Homo sapiens: one gene and its partners. The protein of the gene in region 4 purifies or fractionates together with the protein of the main gene of each other region. This does not show direct contact. Each region holds a gene or a part of one and is shown on either strand. Other genes may lie near its edges.

Evidence for each region.
Region 1: the proteins of IFI6 (region 4) and ARGLU1 purify together in Homo sapiens (affinity purification with mass spectrometry; one large-scale study listed by BioGRID and IntAct). This does not show direct contact.
Region 2: the proteins of IFI6 (region 4) and CDK12 purify together in Homo sapiens (affinity purification with mass spectrometry; one large-scale study listed by BioGRID and IntAct). This does not show direct contact.
Region 3: the proteins of IFI6 (region 4) and KNOP1 purify together in Homo sapiens (affinity purification with mass spectrometry; one large-scale study listed by BioGRID and IntAct). This does not show direct contact.

The regions. Positions count from the first base shown.
Region 1 is NC_000013.11:106,541,173-106,544,137, forward strand, and holds the end of ARGLU1 (arginine and glutamate-rich protein 1), read right to left. Parts: coding exon 2,824-2,965; 3' UTR 501-2,823; downstream 1-500. UniProt on the Homo sapiens protein: Dual function regulator of gene expression; regulator of transcription and modulator of alternative splicing. General coactivator of nuclear receptor-induced gene expression, including genes activated by the glucocorticoid receptor NR3C1.
Region 2 is NC_000017.11:39,520,486-39,523,985, forward strand, and holds part of CDK12 (cyclin-dependent kinase 12), read left to right. Parts: intron 1-3,500. UniProt on the Homo sapiens protein: Cyclin-dependent kinase that phosphorylates the C-terminal domain (CTD) of the large subunit of RNA polymerase II (POLR2A), thereby acting as a key regulator of transcription elongation.
Region 3 is NC_000016.10:19,701,437-19,704,832, reverse strand, and holds the end of KNOP1 (lysine-rich nucleolar protein 1), read left to right. Parts: 3' UTR 1-2,896; downstream 2,897-3,396.
Region 4 is NC_000001.11:27,669,393-27,673,412, reverse strand, and holds the start of IFI6 (interferon alpha-inducible protein 6 isoform a precursor), read left to right. Parts: upstream 1-1,220; 5' UTR 1,221-1,290; intron 1,291-4,020.

The DNA of each region.
Region 1 (2,965 bases), on a different chromosome or scaffold from region 4:
TCTCCTGGAGGGGGAGGAGAGCCTCAAAAATTAGGATAGCCTGTCTTCAGTATTTCTCATGGCCATTAATACAAAACAGATGAATGGTTTTGCGTGTAAAGATGCAGAAAATTTAGACAACTGAAAAGAGACGCTCTAATGGATAGAAATAGCTTTGGAGAAATGTCAGTGAAGTGACAGGCTCCTCATAAAATGAGGCATTAGAAATGATACATAGAGTTCAACAAGTCAGGATTCTACGCTTACTATACTTAGAAAATTGAAAAAATACAAACCACTGAAAATTCTTAAGATACTGCTAAATCCAGGACAGGTGGTGATACAAAAAAAAAAAAAAAAAAGCTATGGACACATACTAGCACAGTAAATGAATACGGAGATTACTTAGGGTAGAAATAGTCTGATTTGCTGCATCTTCATAAGGGAAACTGAAGTAGGTAAAATCTCATACTACAAACCCCTTCCCCAATTTAAAGCATTAAAGAGTCCTCACACCAAGCTAATTTAAAGGTTTAGTTTATACAATTGATAATTCTGCAAACCACAATATGTCAATAACTACATACTGTAATAAAAATAAACAAAGTCATACTTAATTCTATAATGCATTAAGAATAACCTAAAAAAACAAATTGTGAATAAAGGCATATTTAATAAATTAGGGAACATCTTAACTTCTAATAGACTGGGGGAAATTTTTAAGTTTTCTATGTACACAAAGGCAGTGGGAACAAATGAAAAAAACAAATTACTACATTGTTGCAGCACATTAAAGACTGGATGGTGTATATTATTCACAATTACATCCTCTTTCCCATAGCCTGGCAGAGGAAAGTAGTTACCAAGCACAGGAACAATTTCAACATCTCACTGGAGTCTCCAAAAGCAAGCAGATACTGCAGGATGTCATTAAGCAACTTACTGTCACTTCACACCATATGTGGCAGTAAGAAACTTAAAAAAAAAATTAAAAGGCACGCATAAGCTGATTTCAAATATTTTAAGTCCAGGCTACTCTCTTTAGATACAATGTTTTGAACACTTGTATAGAACAGTTTTTAAATAAACATTTCCAAAAACTTGAATACAGAACTTAGGAACCATGAATCTTCACCAAAAAAAGTTACATTGAAAAAAAAAAAAATTCATGAAATAATTACAGCTAACCTATATTTAGAGATAAAATATTTTTTGGCAACCTATATTCTTTAGGAAAATAAAATGTTTGATTTTAGAGTAAGTAGTATGTTTACTAAAAGTTCTCACTATATTTCATGCCTATTTAAAATTCTACCTTTAAAGATCTTTAAACTGATTTTATATTGTTCCTTACCACAATTAGACTCATTGAAGAGCTCAAAACTAAAGCAACAGCATTTTTCCTAGCATGCACACACAAAATAATCTACCATTTAGTCATCTCTTTAGCTTATGTTTTCAATTTTTAAGAATAATCAAACTGTCTAAAAAATATTGGGCAAAAATAAAAATATTTTCTCTACTTGATGACATGTTTATGCATCTCAGGTAGCATTTTAGATCAATATCCTTTTCTTGAATGTTTTAATACCAGTATACTTAAACATATGTTAAGAGTAAATGAGGCAGATTCTAGTGTATAAAATGAAAGCCATTCATAAGATTTCACATGCAAAAAAAAAAAAAAAATTCATAAAGTTCAAATGTGTTTGTCCTAAAAATAAACGTGCAAGTACACTACACAATGAAAATGACTCGACCATCTTAGCCTTTTTTTGACAGTATAAAGCTAAGTTCTTTCTGATGGCCCACTCTGAAAACGATCTCAGATTCCATAATTTAAAAGCATTTTTCTAGCCTTTATTAAGTATACTTTGTGATAATACTTATATCCTAAAACAGAGGCACAGGTTTGAGAATTTAAATCTTCTGGATGTTGTTAGTCTTTCTTAAAGGTAACACTGATGCCATTTGCTCTATCAGCATAAAGTTGATATTTGTAAAAATAGCCATTAAATACTAATTCACAAGTATATTTAATGTACATATAAACCCTATGTTAAAAGTATAAACAAGAGGAAATATAGTTCTAAGACTTCTAAATGGTTGACCATCAAAAAGTGAACCACCCTCTTTAAGACTTAACATAACATTAAAAAAAATTGCTTCAACATATGAATTTAAGACTTTACTTTATTCAGCAAAATCATTTATTTACACAATGGGGAATGCTGGTTTGATTTTGTCAATGAAATAAAAACAAAATGAACAGAGACAATACTGAACTGTATATATACTTTGTATCAGAGTTGACCAACTGTTTCCTTACCTGTATCAGGAACATCAAGAGCAACAGTATCACAAGGACACTGGTTTAACAATACACCACATAGGTCCAGTAATACCCTGGGAATTTCCCAATGCAATCACCAACTTTTTCTTTTTTTATAAATATATAAAAAAACAAAAAGTCAGCAAAACCAGCATTATGATGTAGCAAACAGAGTATAACTCTGAAGTCAGTGGGGTCAGTAAAAGCCTTATCAGACCATCCATAGTTTTACAATGTGATCTGCTCTTCCTCAGACCACTAATATAGAATCCAAACAGGTGAAAAATACGTCACTCCTTAGAATACAACAATGATCTGATAAGGATTTGACTTAGTGGAAGGAAAAAAAAAAAAAAAAAGGGAATTGCAGAGCATAGCCCCTATTAGAACAAGCTAACTTTCCAGATTTTACAAATTAAAAAAACAAAAACAAAAACAAAAAACCACTTCAACATGAAGCTACCATACAAAGTTTTTCCATTTTTCTTTGTAAAAAGTTCAGAGTTTGCAATTTAATCCTGGGTTTTTAATGAGAAGGACAGTTTTGGCCTGGACTTCCCCTTGCCCAGGATAATTTTTTGTTCTTCTTTTTGTTGACGTTGTCGTTCTTGTTCTAGTTTCATCCTTTCCTCATGAATCTTTCTTTGTTCTTCA
Region 2 (3,500 bases), on a different chromosome or scaffold from region 4:
GTTCAAGCGATTCTCCTGCCTCAGCCTCCCGAGTAGCTGGGACTACAGACACACACCACCACACCCAGCTAATTTTTGTATTTTTAGTAGAGACGGGGTTACACCTTGCTGGCCCAGCTGGTCTCGAACTCCTGACCTCAGGTGACCCACCCTGGCCTCCGAAAGTGCTGGGATTACAGGCGTAAGCCACTGCGTCCAGCGTGTTTTTGTTGTTGTTGTTGTTGTTGTTGTTTTGAGATGGAATCTTGCTCTGCCTCCTCCACCTCCCGGGTTCTAGCGATTCTCCTGCCTTAGCCTTGCAAGTAGCTAGGATTACAGGTGCCTGCCACCACACCCGGCTAATTTTTTTGTATTTTTGTTTCATTTTGTTTTGTTTTTTGAGATGGAGTTTCGCTCTTGTTCCCCAGGCTGGAGTACAATGGCGCAATCTCAGCTCGCCGCAACCTCTGCTTCCCAGGTTCAAGCGATTCACCTGCCTCAGCCTTCCCAAGCTGAAATTACAGGCACGTGCCACCATGCCCAGCTAATTTTGTGTTTTTAGTAGAGACAGAGTTTCTCCATGTTGGTCAGGTTGGTCTCGAACTCCCGACCTCAGGTGATCTGCCCACCTCGGCCTCCCAAAGTGCTGGGATTACAGGCATGAGCCACAGTGCCTGGCCATTTTTTTGTATTTTTAGTAGAGATGGGGTTTCACCATGTTGGCCAGGCTGGTCTTGAACTCCTGCCCATCTTGGCCTCTCAAAGTGCTGGGATCACAGGTGTGAGCCACCGTGCCTGGCCTGTTTGTTTGTTTGTGTGTTTTGAGACGGAGTTTCACTCTTCGCATCCAGGCTGGAGTGCAGTGGTGTGATATTGGCTCACTGCAATCTCCGCCTCCCAGTTTCAAGCAATTCTCCTGCCTCAGCCTCCCAAGTAGCTGGAATTACGCCACCATGCCCGGCTAATTTTTGTATTTTTAGTAGAGACAGGGTTTCATCACGTTGGCCGGGCTGATCTTGAACTCCTGGCCTCAGGTGATCCGCCCGCCTTGGCCTCCCAAGGTGCCGGGATTACAGATGTGAGCTACTGCTCCCAGCCTTTTTTGTTTTTTCCGAGACGGAGTCTCGCTCTGTCGCCCAGGCTGGAGTGCAGTGGCGTGATCTCGGCTCACTGCAACCTCCATCTCCTGGATTCAAGCAGTTCTCCTGTCCCAGCCTACTGAGTAGCTGGGATTATAGGCGCAGGCCACCACGCCCGACTAATTTTTTTGTATTTTTAGTAGAGACAGGGTTTCACCATGTTGGCCAAGGTGGTCTCAAACTCCTGACTTCAGGTGATCTGCCTGCCTCAGCCTCCCAAAGTGTTGGGATTACAGGCATGAGCCACCACTCCCAGCCTTTTTTTTTTTTTTTCCAATTGTAGAAATGGAGTCTCACAATGTTGTCCAGACTGTCTCAAACTCCTGGGCTCAAGTGATTCTCCCGCCTCAGCCTTCCAAAGTCATGGGATTACAGGCAGGAGACACATGCTTGGCCTCCCTCTGGTTTTTGCTCTTAACCATTCCTCCAGCTGTAATCATGCATGTCTCTGGTGACCATGTATATCTCACACTTGCAGAGATAGTCCCAGTTTTTTGGGGTTTTTTTTGTTATTATTTTTTTTGAGACAGAGTTTCACTCTTGTTGCCCAGGCTGGAGTGCAGTGGTGTGATCTCGACTCACCACAAGCGTTTCCTGCCTCAGCCTCCCGAGTAGCTGGGATTACAGGTATGCGCCCCCATGCCTGGCTAATTTTGTATTTTTAGTAGAAACAGAGTTTCACCATATTGGTGAGACTGGTCTTGAAGTCCCGACCTCAGGTAATCTGCCTGCCTCGGCCTCCGAAAGTGCTGGGATTACAGGCGTGAGCCACTGAACCCGGCCAACAGTCCCAGTTTTAAATGGTTTGCATCACTGCCAGTTTTTTTTGTTGTTTTTGTTTTTTTCTGAGACAGGGTCTCTCACTCTGTCACCCAGGCTGGAGTGCAGTGGCACAATCTCAACTCACTGCAACCTCCACCTCCCGGCTTCAAGCGATTCCCGTGCCTCAGCCTCCTGAGTAGCTGGATTACAGGAGCCCGGCACCACAGCTGGCTAATTTTTGTATTTTTAGTAGAGATGAGGTTTCACCATGTTGACCAGACTTGTCTCCAATTCCTGACCTCAGGTGATTCGCCTGCCTCGTCCTCCCAAAGTGCTGTGATTATAGGCGTGAGCTACCGCACCCAGCCAGATTACTGAATTTTGATGTAAGAAATAAGATCTTTCGGTCGAGCGCGGTCGCTCACACCTGTAATCCCAGCACTTTGGGAGGCCGAGGTGGATGGATCACCTGAGGTCAGGAGTTCAAGAGAGCCTGGCCAACATGGTAAAACCCCGTCTCTCCTAAAAATACAAAAAATTAACCAGGTGTGGTGGTGTATGCTTGTAGTCCTGGCTACTCAGGAGGCTGAGGGAGGAGAATCGCCTGAACTCGGGAGGTGGAGGTTGCAGTGAGCCGAGATTGTGCCAGTGCATTCCTGCCTAGACCATAGAGTGATACTCCATCTCAAAAAATTAAAGTAACATAAAAGAAATATGATCTTTTAATATGTCTCTATTTAATTAAAATCTTATGAATGCCTCTGTATTGTATTGGAGCTTCAGAGATTCATATCCCACATTATAGCACATAAAAAGTCTTTTATCTGGCCTGGCACGGTGGCTCATGCCTGTAATCCCAGCACTTTGGGAGGCTGAGGCAGGCAGATCACCTGAGGTCATGAGTTCGAGACCAGTTTGGCCAACATAGTGAAACCCCGTCTCTACTAAAAAATACAAAAATTAGCCAGGCGTAGTGGCGTGTACCTGTAGTCCCAGCTACTCAGGGAGACTAAGGCAGGAGAATCACTTGAACCTGGGAGGCGGAGGTTGCAGTGAACTGAGATTGCACCACTGCACTCTAGCCTGGGCAACAGAGCAAGACTCTGTCTCAAAAGAAAAAGAAAAAAAAAGTATTTTATCTTTGAATTTGTCAGTGACAGTATTATAGCTTTAATGTCAAATTTTGGAGGTCATTTTCTTAAGAAAGACTACATGTCTTAAAAATGGATAGGATGTTAGTTCATGAGTAGGTAGTAATTCTAAATCTGATTGCTCCAAAGAAATGTCCAAATTCATTTATTTTTTTGAGACAGACTCTTGTTCTGTTGCTCAGGCTGGAGTGCAGTGGTGTGATCTCGGCTCACTGCAGCCTCCACCTCCCAGGTTCAAGCAATCCTCCTGCTTCAGCCTCCTTAGTAGCTGGGATTACAGGCACACACCACCACACTTGGCTAATTTTTGTATTTTTAGCAGAGACCAGGTTTCACCATGTTGCCAGGCTAGTCTCGAACTCCTGACCTCATGATCCGCCTGCCTCTACCTCCCAAAGTGCTGGGATTACAGGCATGAGCTGCCGCGCCCAGCCAAATTCATTTATTACACTAGAATGTTGATACATTG
Region 3 (3,396 bases), on a different chromosome or scaffold from region 4:
AAGGACCTACTTGGGCCACTTCCCTCAGGACGTGAACTTGTCCTGCCTTTCTTTCCTGGATTCAACCTTGAGATACATAATGGGAGAGGCCGTGGAAAGCCCAAGAGGCAGTGTTCTGGATTTGAGTGAGTGCCTTCTGGGCACCTCCTCCTTTGATGGAGAAACAAATCCCTCCTGACCTTGAGCAACACTACAGGAATGTGCCTGGTGTAAACAGGAACCAGCCGTTCGTTTCTTTTTTTTTGAGATGGAGTCTCACGGTCGCGCAGGCTGGAGTGTGGTGGCGTGATCTCGGCTCATTGTAACCTCTGCTTCCTGGGTTCAAGCGATTCTTGTGCCTCAGTCTCCTGAGTAGCTGGAATCGGCCGTTTACTACTCATAGTTTTTATCTTGCCAAGAGGTCACCCTGACGTTGGCCTGCCTTAGCTCTGTTAAAAAGGTTGTGCTCTGCCAGGTGCGGTGACTCACGCCTGTAATCCCAGCACTTTGGGAGGCCAAGGTGGGCGGATCACGAGGTCAAGAGTTCGAGACCAGCCTGACCAACATGGTGAAACCCCGTCTCTACTAAAAATACAAAAATTAGCTGGGTGGGTGTGGTGTCACGGGCTTGTAATCCCGGCTACTCAGGAGGCTGACAGGAGAATCGCTTGAACCCGGGAGGTGGAGGTTGTAGTGAGCTGGGATGGTGCCACTGCACACTCTAGCCCCGGGCAACAGAATGAGACTCTGTCTCAAAAACAAACAAAAAAAAACTGTCTTTGGGTGATTGTGGAGAGGTGATCATATGTCCGCTGTGTTGCTCCCATCCAAGCCCTGGTGACTGGTAGCTCTCATGAGGGTGTGATGGTCAGGCCTTGCCCCTGGTGTAAATTCTGTCTGTAATAGGCTGTGACTTTCTAACTCAACATCACCACTGGCTTAGGAGTTCCATTTGCACAGGGGGAGCTTTATTGCTTTTCTATATACATAAGAACTTTACGTCTCACCAGTGGAGGTTGGGCAGCCAAGACACCACAATGCTGGGTGTCTTCAGAATGGACTTAATCTTGTCCTTTTGCTTTCTGCCAGTGCAGATCACCATCTCTCAGATGAGCAGGACCCCACCCTCTGGCAGTCTTGTCTTGGGAGAATCACTCTGAGCTCCCATCCTTTGTAAATTAACATTGGTTTGAGCACCACCCTCCATCACGGCTGCAGTGAGCCATGATTGCACCACTGTGTTCCAGCCTGGGTGACAGAGCAAGACCCCATTCCAAAAAAAAAAAAAAATTTGCCAAATAGACACAGTCCTCACAAAAGAAGTTGGCAGAATAACACCCCTTCCTACCACATCTCCTCAGAACCTGTGTATTTGTTAGGTTACGAAACAAAAGGGAATTAAGTTTGCTAATCAGCTGACCTTAAAACAGGAAGAGGATCCCGTGTTTCTGGGTGGGCCGGAGGAATCACAAAGATCCCTAAATGTGGAAGAGGAAGGCAAAAAAGAGTCCACATCAAAGAGACTTAAGAAAGACTTGACTAGACACTGCTGGTTTTGAAGATGGGAAGGGAAGGGTCAGAAGCCAAGGAATGTGTGTGCTGTCTAGAAGCTGGAAAAGGCAAGGAAGTAGATTCTCCCCTAGAGCCTCCCAGAAGGAGCGTAGCCCTGCTGATGCCTTAATTTTAGCTCAGTGAGACCAGGCGGACTTAAGACCTATAGAACCGTCAGATGACAACATTATGTTTTAAGCCGCTACAATTGTGGCAATTTGTTAAAGTAACAATAGAAGACCTAATGTAAGTAAGTCTCATGTGGAAGTTGCCATGGTTTTGTTTTTCTTTCTTTTTTTTTTTTTGAGACAGTCTCACTCTCACTCCACGCCCAGGCTGGAGTGCAGAGGCGTGATCTCAGCTCACTGCAACCTCCACCTCCAGGGTTCAAGCGATTCTCCTGCCTCAGCCTCCTGAGAAGCTGGGATTACAGGTGAGCACCACCACACCCAGCTAATTTTTTTTTGTATTTTTAGTAGAGATGGAGTTTCACCATGTTGGCCAGGATGGTCTTGATCTCTTGGCCTCATGATCCACCTACCTCAGCCTCCCAAAGTGTTGGTATTACAGGCATGAGCCACCGCACCCAGGCCCCATCATTTTTATTTTCTACAATTCTGGCTGACATCTTATTGCTCCATCCTTGCTAATGATAGACTTCATCTCACATAGACCAGTGTTTTCAGAGACCGGCTTATTGATTCAGTAAAGGGCTGGGGGAAACTGCACACACAAGGACATATAAAATCTAAGCCTCTGCCTGGGCCACATGACAGGATTCAGAAGCACCTTTGATATAATGGGTGCCCGACCTCATGTGAAAGTCCAAGTTCAGGTGTAATGTGAGAGCGGTAAGAATTCACTGGCCTAGGCTTGGGAACTAATGCTGCCCACCACGTTCAGCCTCAGAGGAGAAGAAATGACTTGAAGAACATAATTTGTGAATTTGCCAATTGTTTTTCATTTTATAGCATCACACAGTAAAAGTAGATAAAATAATTTTAATGAAAATACTTCTGTGGGCCAGGTGCGGTGGCTTACGCCTGTAATCCCAGCACTTTGGGAGGCCGAGGCGGCGGATCACCTGAGGTCAGGAGTTCTAGACCAGCCTGACCAACATGGAGAAACCCCATCTCTACTAAAAATACAAAATTAGCTGGGTGTGGTGGCGCACTCCTGTTATCCCAGCTACTCAGGAGGCTGAGGCAGGAGAATTGCTTAGACTCGGGAGGCGGAGGTTGGGGTGAGCCGAGATCACGCCATTGTACTCCAGCCTGGGCAACAAGAGTGAAACTGTCTCAAAAAAAAGAAAAAAAAACAGAATTTTGTGAAATAAAGGCCACTTGGGAGTATCTGAGCCACCCCACAATGCTGTCTGAGTTTCTGTATGATTTAGTAGAGGGGAGGGAAAGAAGCATTCATTAGTGTCTGCTGTCCTTTAATTTTTTTTGAGATGAGATGATATTTTGCTCTTGTCACTCAGGCTGGAGTGCAGTGACGCAATCTCGGCTCACTGCAACCTCCGCCTCCTGGGTTCAAGCGATTCTCCTGCCTCAGCCTCCCAAGTAGCTGGGATTACAGGTGTGTGCCACCACGCCTGGCTAATTTTTGTATTGTTAGTAGAGACGGGGTTTCACCATGTTGGCCAGGCTGGTCTCGAATTCCTGACCTCAGGTGATCTGCCTGCCTCAGCCTCCCAAAGTGCTGGGATTACAGGCGTGAATCACCGTGCCCGGCCAATAAATTGATTTAAAAAAATTTTTTAGCCCCTTTTACTGTCTGAGGTTAACTGAGTGTTCAACTGTAGTCTTGTATTTCTCAGAGTAAAGATGAAATGTAATCTATGTCCAGTTCCAGTGTGGATCT
Region 4 (4,020 bases):
TAATAAGAGGCAAATGGCTTGGCTGGTTGGTCAAAGGCATGGATGGAACAAGATTGGAAGATTGGGAATAAGCAGGTGTGGGTTAGGGGCATAAGAATGAACTCTGAATGGGCATAAAGCACCTGGATCTCTATGTCTCATGTTAATGCTGACCAGAGATCATCTGCTGCAGAGGAGGCTCTACAGCCCAATGGCCAGGATGTCCCATCCTGTGGATGTCAGCCAGCCTCTAAACTTAGCCTCACTATTGCCTTGCAATAGACCTATGAGTGTCCAAGGTGGTAAGGATGGGGGTTAGAAATGAGTCCAACAACTTGGGCTCCCTCTCACCAAAACTGATCTGGCAATTGCCAAAATATAGCCAATCTGCCAGCAGCAGGTAGCAATATGGCAAAATTTCTCAATGAGAATAGCCAGCCATCTGGTGGCAGGTCAATTATTTCAGACCCCTTCCACTTGGGAGAAGGCAATGATTCATCCTTACTGGAATTTCTATGTTCTCCAAATAGAGGTTGCATTTCTGACCCATAGCACTTCAAGCATCACCATCCAAAGGCTTTAAAGAATGCTCAGTTCATTACCTAGGGCCAGGGGACCCATCTTGAAACTCAAGATCTATCATGATGGCCACATGAACACAGGCTTCACTGGTCTTACCATATGCCCATGACCCAGAAGCAGCCAGCCTGAGAGAACAATGGAACAAAGTGACTTAATTTCCAAAGTTCTGGGGGTTTATAAACAGCATATGGTATGTCACATGACTACTGTGGGATTGGAAAAAGATCATGTAAATAGAGCACTTTGCACAGACCCTGGCATGCAGCAAGTGCTCAATAAATGATAGGTGTTGTTTACTAATTGGACTGAATGGTGAAAGGCCTGTGTGCCCCAGGGGGAGCTGGTGATCAGGCTTCACTAAGCCCAGTATGGCCGTGGCTCTCATCATAGTGTGACATGCTTTGAATACCCTTAGCGGCTCCAAAAGTCCTCAGCTTGAAGTGCATTTTTCTGCCAGCAGGCAGCACACAAATGTTCCCGCTGGGCGGAGCTGGGAGAGAGGGGAAAATGAAACTCTGCAGAGTGCAGGAGCTGGGAGAGAGGGGAAAATGAAACTGCAGAGTGCAGAAATAGAAACTCCGACAGGGATTGGCTGCCTAGGGTGAGACGTGGGAGGATCCACAAGTGATGATAAAAAGCCAGCCTTCAGCCGGAGAACCGTTTACTCGCTGCTGTGCCCATCTATCAGCAGGCTCCGGGCTGAAGATTGCTTCTCTTCTCTCCTCCAAGGTAAACTCAGGAGCTATGAAGTGTGGGCATCAAGCTGCCACCCTCTGCCAGGCTGCCTGTCTGCCTGTAAATCTCATGTTCTGAGAGCCAGGAGGCCCCTTCTCCTGGGAGGCAGCACTCCTGGGTCCCTTTTAGTGCTCTGGGCTGGGACTTGTCTAAGAGGATGGGTTGGAGATTTTTAGGGAGATGGGATGCAAAACCCCAAGTGGCATGAGACCCAGCTTACAGGTGCAATATCAGCGATCTGTGGCCTTAACACTGTCACCTCTTGGAGCCTTAATTACTTCCTCTGTAAAAGGAAAGTTAAGTTGCCTTTGCTGCTCAAAGGACTGGATGATTTTAGAATCCCCTTTATTATAGGATCCAATGTGACAGTGAGTTCATCTTTAAGGATAGATGAAGCCATCTGGAGTGGTTGTTAAAAATGTGGGCTTGGTGGCCGGGCGTGGTGGTTCACGCCTGTAATCCCAGCACTTTGGGAGGCCGAGACCCACGGATCACGAGGTCAGGAGATCGAGACCATCCTGGCTAACACAGTGAAACCCTGTCTCTACTAAAAATACAAAAAAAATTAGCCGGGCTTGGTGGTGGGCGCCTGTAGTCTCAGCTACTCGGGAGGCTGAGGCAGGCAGGAGAATGGCATGAACCTGGGAGGTGGAGCTTGCAGTGAGATGAGATTGCGCCACTGCACTCCAGCCTGGGCGACAGAGAAAGACTCCATCTCAAAAAAAAAAAAAAAAAAATGTGGGCTTGGGTATTAGCCAATTGTGGGTTTAAACCCTGACTTTGCCATGACCTGGCTAGGCAGCCTTGGGAATATTACTTAACCTCTCTGAGCTTCAGTTTCCTTATCTATAACATGTGGTTGATAACAATGGTACCTACTTCGTGGTGTTGTTATAGGTACAAGTGGACTGCGTGCCATAAAGTGCTAAGTACTCAATACATGAGAGGAGTTTCTTGTTTTTCTTTTTAACTTAAGAAAATAGCATTGATCTGACAAAGATCATATTAGAGGTGAGTCTGAGGGCATATGCATTTTCCAGTTTTGTGGTATAAAGGAAAGAGCATAGGTTCATGAATTCTGACTGTCTTGAATGTGTACCCATGTTGCACAATTTGCTGTGTGACCTTTATCCCTTGTGATATTGTAAAATATATTTTTTCATCCCCCAGTTCCTGGCATACAACTCCTAAAATCCTTGGAATCTTCAAAGTGATAAATATCTTTTGAGTGATAACTGTCTAATAAGTTGACTGATGGCTGGCATTTCCTCTGGGGAGGGGAGAGGGGCTGAAGGTTAAGCTGATTACCAATGGGCAGTGATTTAATCAGTCATGCCTATGTAATGAAGCCTCCATAAAAACACAAAAGGACAGGGTTTGACAAGCTTCCAGATAGCCGAATACAAGGAGGTCTCCAGTGGGTGGTGCTTCTGGAGAGGAATGGAAACTCCATGCCCTTTCTCCCATACCTTGCCCTATGCATCTCTTCATCCGGAGCATTTGTAATATCCATAAGGAACCAGTAAATGTAGCTGGGTATGGTGGCTGATGCCTGTAATCTCAGCACTTTGGGAGGCTGAGGCAGGCAGATTGCGTGAGTTCAGGAGTTCAAGATCAGCCTGGGCAACATGGTGAAACCCCATCTCAAAAAAAAAAAAAAAAATTAGTTGGGCGTGGTGGTGCATACCTGTAGTCCCAGCTATGCTGGAGGCTGAGGTGGGAGGATCACTTGAGCCTGGGAGGCGAAGGTCTCAGTGAGCTGAGATGGGGCCACTGCACTCCAGCCTGAGCAATAGAGTGAGACCCTGTCTCAAAACAACAACAAGATCAATTTTTTTTTTTTAAAGAAAGAAACCAGTATATGTAAGTAAAGTGTTTCCCTGAGTTCTGTGAGCTGCTCTAGCAAATTAGTAAAACTGCAGGAGGGAATTGTGGGAACCCCAGTTTATAGTCAGTCAGAAACACAGGTAAAACAACCTAGGGCTTTCGATTGGCAGTCTGGGGGACTGAACCCTCAACATGTGGGATCGGCCACTATCTACCCATAGTGGTGTCAGAATTGAATTTGGGGACCCTCAGCTGGTGTTCACCAGAGGACTGATTGTTTGCTTGCTGGTGGGGAGAAACCCCCACACTTCTGCTGTCAGAAGCCTCTCGTACGGTGAGGGAAACTGAGTTTCTTTTTCCACACACCCTTCTGTGCTTTCTTTCTGAAAAAAAAATTAAGTTGATGTGAGGCCAACGTTTGGTGCCAGTAGATATTCAATGCATTGTAAGAATGAGTTTGTCTTAAAAATTTTTTTAAAGCAAATTCTATGCGTCAGGCACTGTTCAAAGTGCCGGGGATACAGCGTGGAACAGTTATTAAATTAACAAGTACCCTCTGAAATAGACTCTATTAATACCCCAATTTTAGAAATAAACAAACTGAAGCCCAGAGAAGCAAAGTACCCTAGTATCCTGCCCAAGGTCACTTGGGTACAAGGCCAGGAACAACCACAGTCATGATATTGACATCTGCGGAGCTTACCACGTGCCAAACACCGTGCGAATCCGCACAGAATCCGCACACCCACCGGTTGGGGCAGGGACATCTCTGCCACTGATGCGGAGAGGAAACGGATTCCCGAGGCTCCTGAGAGGGATCCTGGGTTCCATTCACCACACCTCGCTGCTTTTTACTGATTCAGTTGGAACTGGAAGGGAAAACAACGGAGCTGATGA